2 separate regions of the Homo sapiens genome follow, and region 1 is linked to region 2. The links come from fine-mapping of genetic effects on gene expression. A gene starts in region 2. The other region holds a variant in brackets. All regions are shown on one strand. Distances are between the middles of the regions. Region 1 has its middle 7.9 kb from the start of PNMA8A. Region 2 holds the start of CCDC8 (coiled-coil domain containing 8 subunit of 3M complex).

Region 1 (5,365 bases), 50 kb before region 2:
ATCCATGAGAGAAGAAGCCGTTTGTCCTCTTTGCGAATGGCTTTCCACTGATGTGGAAGGATGTCCCACAGATCTTGGGGTTTCTAGAATAGGTATCTGGTGACGCAAATTACCTCAAAGTACCAGTTTATTTTTTTATAAACAGCTGGAAAATGAAAACCTTTCCCTCCCTTCCTATTCCCTCACACAGAAGCCAAGGTCTTTTTTTTTTTTTTTTTTTGAGATGGAGTTTCGCTCTGTCACCCAGGTGGGAGTGCAGTGGCACAGTCTCAGCCCACTGCAGCCTCTACCTCCTGGGCTCAAGTGATCTGCCCACCTCGGCCTCCCAAAGCGTTGGGATTACAGGTGTAAGCCACCATGCCAAGCCAGAAGCTGAGGTCTTTTAGCTAAAAATATAGTTTTCTTCTGGCCCTCCCCTGCCCCTCCCCAGGAACTCCTGAACCAGGGTGGCCACTACATCAGTCACTTGGAATCTGTTCAAGGTACCATTTCGTGGCTCTACCTGCTGATTCAGGATCTCTTCGGGGTTGTACATAGTTATCTGCGTCTTAAACAGTTTCTCCTGAGAATTTTTTTTTTTTTTTTTTGAGACGGAGTCTCGCTCTGTCTCCTAGGCTGGAGTGCAGTATCATGATCTCAGCTCACTGCAACCTCTGCCTCCCGGGTTCAAGCGATTCTCCTGCCTCAGCCTCCCAAGTAGCTGGGACTACAGGGGTGCGCCACCACGCCCAGCTAATATTTTTGTATTTTTTTTAGTAGAGATGGAGTTTCACCATGTTGGCCAGGATGGCCTCGATCTCTGATCTCTTGACCTCGTGATCCGCCCACCTCAGCCTCCCAAAGTGCTGGGATGACAGGCGTGAGCCACCACGCCCAGCCAAGAATTCTATTAATAATACAGGTTGGAGAGCTTCAGGTGGAATAATTCAGACTTGGGGAAACGGAAGTGTCCTTAGGGGTCCAGGTTGAGGTTTTGTGAAAGTGAATGGAGATTATGAGGAAAGATGCGAAAGAGACCAAAAGGGAAGCTGGGATTTGAGGACGCGGAGCTCGTTAGGAACTGCCGTGTACTCATAGAAGCATCTGGATGAAGCTCTATTTATTGGGTGCCCCCACACCCCCACAATGGGAAAAGCCCTATTTGACCAAGATGTTTAAGTACCTCCCACAATAATAGTCACTCCTACTGGTTACACCCAGGCTGTCAGTAAAGTATGAAAGGCCTACGTGCCCTAAAAATGGGGGGAATCCAAGGTTGGGGCACATGAAAGCTCTCTTCAAAGAAACCTCATCGCCCCGGGTGGAGGTGTTCTGTTCAGGGGTGCGTCTGGGGAGGCGCTGGCCCGGAGTGTTTGCAGGAAGATGGAGAGCTGTGGATGCCACCAGCAGGGCTCGAGGGCAAAGTGTCCTGGTTGCCCATGCTGCCATTCAAGCAAGGTTCGTTGAGAATCTGCTGTACGACAGCCAGGAGCAAGACAGAGTCCTGGCTTCCTGGAGCCTGACGTTTGAGTGAGGACAGACCTTATATAGACACAGGTGGAGGGGTGGGGAGCTCTGCCGTGAAAAATATAACAGGAAGATAGGCAGGCAAGGTGAGTGTGCAGAAACGGCTGGCTGTCGCTTACAATGGTTGGGGGAGCCTCTCTGGGAACTGGATGTCTGAACAGACCTGAAGGGGGTGAGGGGTGAGACAAGCAGTTGGCCAAGAACGGCCTCCTGGGCAGAGGGAACAGTCATCGTGGAGGGAGGCTCTAATCTGTTTCAGAAAGTGAGTAAGGCTGGGCGCAGTGGCTCACACCTGTAATCCCAGCACTTTGGGAGGCCAAGGCGGGCAGATCACCTGAGGTCAGGAGTTCAAGACCAGCCTGGCCAACATGGTGAAACCCCATCTCTACTAAAAATACAAAAAAATTAGCCAGGTGTGATGGCGCGTGCCTGTGGTCCCAGCTACTTGGGAGGCTGAGGCAGGAGAATTGCTTGAACCCAGGAGGTTGAGACTGCAGTGAGCTGAGATCGCACCACTGCACTCCAGCCTGGGCGACAGAGCAAGACTCTGTCTCAAAAAAATAAAAATAAAAAAGCAAGGAGGAGGTGAGGAGCAAGAGGGCAGGGGGCTTTGGAGGCTGGTGTGCAAAGCCCCACAGGTGCGGCCAGGATGGATTCCAGCTTTAATCTGAGAGATGGGAGCCATGGGAGGGTGCTGAACACAGCGTCAGGATCCTACATAGGTTGTTTCCAGGCTCCCCCTGGAAGCCTGGTGGGGAACAGACTGCAGAGGGTGAGGTGGCAGCTGGGAGCCTAGTGGGGAGGTGACAGTAGCTGGACCCAGGAGGCCCAAGAAAAAGCTGCCCATTTGGGGATCTGGTTAGCAGAGCTGCCAAGGAGAAAGAAGTGGGTTGTGTTGATTTACTTATTCATTTATTCCTTTTTTTTACATTTTCATTTTTTAGTTAAAATAAAACATTTATATACAGTGAAATGGACAGATCTTAAGTGAACGGTCTGATAAGGATAAGTTTGGACATAGGCAGGCACCTGTGTAACCCACCCCTGCGACAAGTTACAGAACAATATCATCATCCTAGAAAGCCTCCCTGTGCCCCTTCCCAGTCGGTCCCCGCCGCAGCTCTCAGAGGTGAGCACTGTAATGATTTTTCCAGCCAAAGCTCAGTGTGTCTGTCCCAGGAGTGCTGTAAGTGGAGTCATACAGCATATGGTTTTTTTGGTGTCTGGCTTCTTTTCCTCAGCATAGTGTTTTTGTTTGTTTTGTTTTTGTTTTTGTTTTTTAGGGAGTTTCACTCTTTTTGCCCAGGCTGGAGTGCAATGGCGCCATCTC[G/A]GCTCACTGCAACCTCCGCCTCCCGGGTTCAAGTGATTCTCCTGCCTCAGCCTCCCGAGTAGCTGGGATTACAGGTGCCCACCACCACGCCTGGCTAATTTTGTAGTTTTAGTAGAGACAGAGTTTCTCCATGTTGGCCAGGCTGGTCTCAAACTCCTGACCTCAGGTGACCCGCCCACCTCAGCCTCCCAAAGTGCTGGGATTACAGGCGTGAGCCACCACGCCCCGGCCTTTTTTTTTTTTTTTTTTTTTGAGACAGCATCTCACTCTGTTGCTCAGGCTGGAGTGCAGTGGCACAGTCTTGGCTCACTGCAACCTCCGCCTGCCAGGTTCAAGCGATTCTCCTGCCTCAGCCTCCCAAGTAGCTGGGACTACAGGTGTGCACCACCACGCCCGGCTAATTTTTGTATCTTTCATAGAGACGGGGTTTCATCATGTTGCCCAGGCTGTTCTCGAACTCCTGGCCTCACGTGATCCACCCGCCTCAGCCTCCCAAAGTGCTGTGATTACAGGTGTGAGCCACCGTGCCCGGCCAGCATCGTGTTTTTGAGATTCATGTGTGTTTGAGTAGTATTTTCAATTATTTAAAAACAAAATTTTTTTAAGAGTCAGGCTCTTGCTCCATCATGTAGGCTGGAGTGCAATTGTGTGGTCACAGCTCACTGCAGCCTCAAACTCCTGGGCTTAAATGATCTTCCTGAGTAGCTAGGACTGCAGATGCGCACCACCATGCCCAGCTAACTTTTTTTTTTTGGTAGAGATGAGGTCTCACTATGTTGCCCAGGCTGGTCTTGAATGCCTGGCCTCAAACAATCCTCCTGCCTCAGTCTTTTGAAGTGCTGGGATTACAGGCATGAGACACTGTGCCCCACCACGACCTACATATTTTTAAATTACTTTTTTTGTTTGTTTGTTTTTTGAGATGGAGTCTCGCTCTGTTGCCCAGGCTGGACTGCAGTGGTGCGATCTCAGCTCACTGCAAGCTCTGCCTCCTGGGTTCACACCATTCTCCTGTCTCAGCCTCCCGAGTAGCTGGGACTACAGGCACCCGTCACCATGCCCGGCTAATTTTTTTTTTTTTTTTGTATTTTTAGTAGAGATGGGGTTTCACTGTGTTAGCCAGGATGGTCTTGATCTCCTGACCTCGTGATCTGCCCGCCTCAGCCTCCCAAAGTGCTAAGATTACAGGCATGAGCCACCGCACCCGGCCAATTTACTTTTTAATATTTTCCCCACATTAAAAAATAAAACATCACAGACTTTTTAAATTTTATTTATTTAATTTTTTTTTGAGACAGGGTCTTGCTCTTCACCCAGGCTCAAGTGCAGTGGCGTGATCTTGGCTCATGGCAGCCTTGACTTTCCAGGCTCAAGCCATCCTCTTATATCAGCCCCTCTGCAAGTAGCTGGGACTACAGGTGCAAACCACCATGCCCAGCTATTTTTGTATTTTTTGGTAGAAACAGGGTTTTGCCATGTTGCCCAGGCTGACTGCAGACTTTTAAAAGCACCCAAATGCATTATTCAAGCAACATTAGCCACTGTGGTCAGATTAACGATAATGCAATAATTTTTTTCTGTTCATCTCTGTTTTAGATTTGCACTTTTTGTAATGGTATGAACAATTAAGAGGATTAGGGAACTGTGCTGGTCTGTGCTAAAGTTCATCACAGGCAGGGCACATCCAAGCCTTTAAACTTGCTCCCAGGTGTCCTGGTTCTAAATAGCACATCTGTCCCACTTAATTAAACTCAGGCATGACTCTTGCAAACCCCTTGGGTCCTGGCTCTTGTTCAGGCCTGAATGGCCACATAATAGCAAGAGAATGCGTGGCAGGTCTCAGCTTGGCAACATGACATGAGGCATCATCCCAGTGCCCAGGGTAAGATTTGGTGTTTCTTCTGTGACTCTCCTTTTTTTTTTTTTTTTTTTTTTGAGACTGTGTCTCGCTCTGTTGTCCAGGCTGGAGTACAGTGGTGCAATTTCAGCTCACTACAACCTCTGCCTCCTGGGCTCAAGCCATCCTCCTGCCTCAGCCTCCTGAGTAGCTGGGATTACAGACATGCAAAGTGCTGGGATTACAGGCGTGAGCCACTACGCCCGGCCAATTTTAATTTTTAAAAGACAGGATTTCACTCTGTTGCCCAGGCTTGAGTACAGTGGCATGATCACGGCTCACTGCAGCCTCCACCTCCTGGGTTTAAGCAATCCTCCTGCCTCAGCCTCCTGAGTAGCTGTGACCCCAAGAGCACACCACCTTGCCCAGCTAATTGTTTTACTTTTTTTTTTTTTAATAGAGACAGCTCCCTATGTTGCCCAGGCTTGTCCTGGCCTCAAGCTGTCCTGCTGCCTCAGCCTTCCAAAGTGCTGAGATAACAGGCATGCACCACCACACCCAGCAGAGTCCCACTTTTCATCTTGTGTCTTTGAATATTTCAACCACAAACAATAAATACTTATATTCATTTATTTTAAAGTAACCAGAGATAGTACAACCACTTTGGAGAACTGTTTGGAAATTTATTAAAA
Region 2 (5,322 bases):
CTTTCCCTCTGGCCCGTCTCTTTTTCCTCCGTTCCCTCTTTAAAAATTTGCCTGGTTCCTTTATGAGTTAAATAAGATCACATTTATTTATTTATTTGAGACGGAGTCTCGCTCTGTCGCCCAAGGTGGAGGGCAGTGGCGCGATCTTGGCTCACTGCAACCTCCGCCTCCCAGTTCAAGCGATTCTTCTGCCTCAGCCTCCCCAGTAGCTGGGATTACAGGCATGTGTCACCATGCCCGGCTAATTCTTATATTTTTGTTCGTTTCTTTTTTTTGTTTGTTTGTTTTTGAGACGGAGTTTCGCTCTTGTTGCCCAGGCTGGAGTGCAATGGCACGGTCTCAGCTCACTGCAACCTCTGAATCCCGGATTCAAACGATTCTCCTGCCTGAGCCTCCGGAGTAGCTGGGATTACAGGCATGCGCCACCAAGACAGGCTAGTTTTGTAGTTTTAGTAGAGGCGGGGTTTCACCATGTTGGCCAGGCTGGTCTCAAACTTCTGACCTCAGGTGATCCACCCGCTTCAGCCTCCCAAAATGCTGGGATTACAAGCGTGAGCCACCGCGCCCGGCAATTTTTGTATTTTTTAGTAGAGATGGGGTTTTGCCATGTTGACCAGGCTGGTCTCAAACTCCGGACCTCAGGTGATCCGCCCGCCTCAGCCTCCCAAAGTGCTGGATTAAAGGCGTGAGCCACGGCGCCCAGCCTGAGATGGAGAATTTTCAAAAGAGTAGAGACAGATCGGACCTAAGTTTTTAAAAGATGCCCCCAGCTTCTGGATGGGGCCTGGATTGCAAGCAGTGATGGGGAGGCGGGAAGCCCAGTGAGGGGGCTTTGTACACATCCAGGCAAGAGTGGCTGCAAGTATTGTGGCTGCTAAGTGGTTAAATGGTGCAACACATTTAGGAGAAGGGGATTAGCTGTGTCTTTAGCGTCAGCTAGTGTTTTAAATGCTAGTGCCCAAGATCTGGTTCTAATATTATATTAGATCCACCACTCAGAGCTGTGCAACTTCAGACCAGCCTCAGTTTCACCGTCTGTAAAAAGATGATTGATGGCACTGGCCTTACCATGTACCTCTGAGGGTTCCTAACAACGAGGCCTATTCAACATGTCTCTGGATGCCTGGTTCCAAAGATGTGGACCAATGCTAGTCGCATGTCCTGTAGCAGGAGGAGCCACGGACAAAACCCCTCAGACACTGGGTTAAGGAAGGATTTGGCTTTTTCGGCCGGGAGCTTCGGCAGACTCGCCTCTCAACTGGCGGGAGCTTCGGTAGACTCGCGTCTCAAGAACCGAGCTCCCGGCCGAATGCGACTAGCATTGGTTCACATCTTGATTCTTTTTTTTCTTTCTTTCTTTCTTTTTTTTTTTTTGAGACGGAGTCTTGCTCTGTCGTCCAGGCTGGAGTGCAGTGGTGCGATCGCGGCTCACTGCAACCTCCGCCTCCCGGGTTCAAGAGATTCTTCTGCCTCAGCCTCCCGAGTAGCTGGGACTACAGGCACGTACCACCACGCGCGGCTAATTTTTTTGCATTTTTAGTAGAGACAGGGTTTCACCGCGTTAGCCAGGATGGTCTTGTCTTGATCTCCTGACCTCGTGATCTGCCCGCCTCAGCCTCCCAAAGGGCTGGGATTACAGGCGTGAGCCACCGCGCCTGGCCATCTTGACTCTTTGGTCGACACAAAAGGCAGACTATTCTGGATTCAAATCCAAACTCAACCACTCCCCATGGCTGTGACCTTGAGAGTGTGGTTTTATGTCCTTGGGCCTCAGTTTCCTCAGCTGTCTAATGGGAATTGTACTCATGCTACCAGTCTCCTGTTATAGCAAGGATTTCCTGAGTTCATTCATAGAAAGCACTGGGAATGGTGCCTACTACATAGGAAGCGCCTCATAAACCGTGCCTATCCTTAGCCATCTCATTCTTTTTTCGAAGTTGCAAAATATTTCACTGTAAGATACTACCATAAAATAGAGGCAGTCTCTACTCGTGAACTTTTAGGGTTTTTTGTTGTTGTTTATTTGTAGGGGTTTTTTTGCACTTTTGTTTTTTTGAGACAGTCTCCCTCTGTTGCGCAGGCCGGAGTGCAGTGGCGCGATCTCTGCAACCTCCACCTCCCAGGTTCACGCCATTCTCCTGCCTCAGCCTCTCGCGTAGCTTGGGACTACGCACGCGCACCACCACACCCGGGGTAGAGACGAGGGTTTCACCATGTTGGGCAGGCTGGTCTCGAACTCCTGGCCTCAAGTGTTCCACCCACCTGGGCCTCCCAAAGTGCTGGCATTACAGGCATGAGCCACCGCGCCTGGCCATGAACATTTGGGTTTATTCATCCCCTCAAAAATATGTATTGAGCCCTGACCTGCCAAGCGCCACAGTGGGACTGTTGCAGTCAGGTACCCATTTCTCTACCCACGCATATAGGTGTACGGGTACCGATAGTCGCGTGAATTTAAAATGCTAATCTGTGGTGCCAGTGGCTCTCAAAAAGTAGAATCCACTAGCACACCCACCTCCCGGACTTGGCTGGAAACTTGCACATTTCGGATGGCAGGTTTGGGAACCGCTGCCTTTCAGGAAAGGTGCTGACGTGGGCCACTGCCGCTTCGCTGGGAAGCAATGGGCCCAGCTAGGCCCGGGGCGCGGCCACACCCCTGTGGGGGAGGGGAAGGAGGCCGCCCCGAAGGGAGTGGACAGCCCCCCTGTCAGTCTTCCAGAGTCTGGGAGTGTAAGATGAGACGGGGGAAGGTGGGCCTCATTCTGGCGGAGGGCGAGGAGGAACTTCCTGCCCGCGCGCTCCACGGTGCAGAGCTCTAAGCGCGCGGGCTGGCAGGCTGCGGCGCGTCAAGGTCAGCCTGGAGCTGGGTGGCGGCCTGCCTGGGGGCGGGGGACCCTACTGGAGGCCCGGGCTGGGGCCTCCCAGCGCCTCGGCCATATTGAATAGCTTCGACTGGACCGTCTTTGTCTGCGAAGTCCTGTCCCAAGTTCCAGCCGCGTCCCTGGGGCCTGGGGCAGGAAGAGTCGCTGGCAGCCCGCGCGCCCCAACTTGGAGCTGGGACACCACGTTTCCAGCTTGGAGTGGGCCTTGAGCCTTGGGACTGACCTCGCCCCCGGCTCACGTAGGCATCCTGGAAATTGATTCCCCCAAGTCCTTGGTGGGGGAGCCGGACTTGGTCAAGACTGTACTTGTTGCAGGCGAAGAGATTGGAGGCGTTTGGCTCGTCCCTGGCTAGGGAGGTGAGACTCTCCGGTCAGCGTTGCTGGAACTCCCCCCATCCAGTCCCTCCCTCAAGACTAAGGGCTACAGTAGTTTGTTGGGGCTCATTGCCCCCTCACCCCAGATATCACCCTGGAGATCTTAAAGACTCTCGAGAAAAGCCACGTGGGGGGCTGGTTCCCCTGGGGCTTCCTGCCGTCCCCCGACTGCCTCATTCTTTGGAGCGTCCCCGATGTCTGCAAAGATGTGGATTTGGACGTCCTCGTGGAAGCCCTAAAGCCCGTGGGGACATTTAAGAAGATCGGCAAGGTGTTCCGCAAGGAGGAGGACTCCACGGTGGGGATGCTGCAGATCGGGGAGGACGTCGACTATTTGCTCATCCCCCGGGAGGTCAGGCTGGCTGGGGGCGTCTGGAGAGTCATCTCTAAGCCCGCCACCAAGGAAGCAGAATTTCGGGAGCGGCTGACCCAGTTCCTGGAAGAAGAGGGCCGCACCCTGGAGGACGTGGCCCGCATCATGGAGAAGAGCACCCCGCACCCGCCCCAGCCCCCCAAAAAGCCCAAGGAGCCCCGAGTGAGGAGGAGAGTGCAGCAGATGGTGACTCCTCCGCCCCGGCTGGTCGTGGGCACGTACGACAGCAGCAACGCCAGCGACAGCGAGTTCAGCGACTTCGAGACCTCCAGAGACAAGAGCCGCCAGGGCCCGCGGCGGGGCAAGAAGGTGCGCAAAATGCCCGTCAGCTACCTGGGCAGCAAGTTCCTGGGAAGCGACCTGGAGAGTGAGGATGATGAGGAACTGGTCGAGGCCTTCCTCCGGCGACAGGAGAAGCAGCCCAGCGCGCCGCCTGCCCGCCGCCGCGTCAACCTGCCAGTGCCCATGTTTGAGGACAACCTGGGGCCTCAGCTGTCCAAAGCGGACAGGTGGCGGGAGTATGTCAGCCAGGTGTCCTGGGGGAAGCTGAAGCGGAGGGTGAAGGGTTGGGCGCCGAGGGCGGGCCCCGGGGTGGGCGAGGCCCGGCTGGCCTCCACCGCAGTGGAGAGCGCAGGGGTATCATCGGCGCCAGAGGGCACCAGCCCGGGGGATCGCTTGGGAAACGCGGGAGATGTTTGTGTGCCCCAGGCTTCCCCTAGGCGATGGAGGCCCAAGATCAACTGGGCCTCCTTTCGGCGCCGCAGGAAGGAGCAGACAGCACCCACAGGTCAGGGGGCAGACATCGAGGCTGATCAGGGGGGAGAGGCTGCAGATAGTCAAAGGGAAGAGGCCATAGCTGACCAGCGGGAAGGGGCTGCAGGTAATCAGAGGGCAGGGGCCCCAGCTGACCAGGGGGCAGAGGCTGCAGATAATCAGAGGGAAGAGGCTGCAGATAATCAGAGGGCAGGGGCCCCAGCTGAGGAGGGGGCAGAGGCTGCAGATAACCAGAGGGAAGAGGCTGCAGATAATCAGAGGGCAGAGGCCCCAGCTGACCAGAGGTCACAGGGCACAGATAACCACAGGGAAGAGGCTGCAGATAATCAGAGGGCGGAGGCCCCAGCTGACCAGGGGTCAGAGGTTACAGATAATCAAAGGGAAGAGGCCGTACATGACCAGAGGGAAAGGGCCCCAGCTGTCCAGGGTGCAGATAATCAGAGGGCACAGGCCCGGGCTGGCCAGAGGGCAGAGGCTGCACATAATCAGAGGGCAGGGGCCCCAGGTATCCAGGAAGCTGAAGTCTCAGCTGCCCAAGGGACCACAGGAACAGCTCCAGGAGCCAGGGCCCGGAAACAGGTCAAGACAGTGAGGTTCCAGACCCCTGGACGCTTTTCGTGGTTTTGCAAGCGCCGGAGAGCCTTCTGGCACACTCCCCGGTTGCCAACCCTGCCCAAGAGAGTCCCCAGGGCAGGAGAGGCCAGGAACCTCAGGGTGCTGAGGGCCGAGGCCAGAGCAGAAGCTGAGCAGGGAGAGCAAGAAGACCAGCTGTGAGGTGAGGGCTAGAGACAGCCCACGGGCCCTCCCTCCAAGTGTGGGAGGGAGAGATGCTCTGCCTCTGAACTTCAAAGTGGAGGTGGAGTGCTGGCCACGTCTCCACCTAACAACCCTCTTTATTCTCTTGTTAAAGTTTTGTTC

Evidence for each region.
Region 1: its variant is fine-mapped to the expression of CCDC8 in esophagus muscle (GTEx, PIP 0.97).

Annotation. Positions count from the first base shown.
Region 1 is chr19:46,460,998-46,466,362 of GRCh38, reverse strand. No RefSeq gene overlaps it. Among named protein-coding and RNA genes, the nearest start is that of PNMA8A, 7.9 kb to the left of the region's middle. The variant G/A (reference allele first, on the strand shown) is at 2,837.
Region 2 is chr19:46,411,050-46,416,371 of GRCh38, reverse strand. It overlaps CCDC8 (coiled-coil domain containing 8 subunit of 3M complex), which reads left to right and starts at 2,808. Exons shown (of 1, transcript NM_032040.5): 1 at 2,808-5,322. The coding sequence starts at 3,562. The coding sequence ends at 5,178. RefSeq lists enhancers at 268-1,100, 1,101-1,934, 3,601-4,434.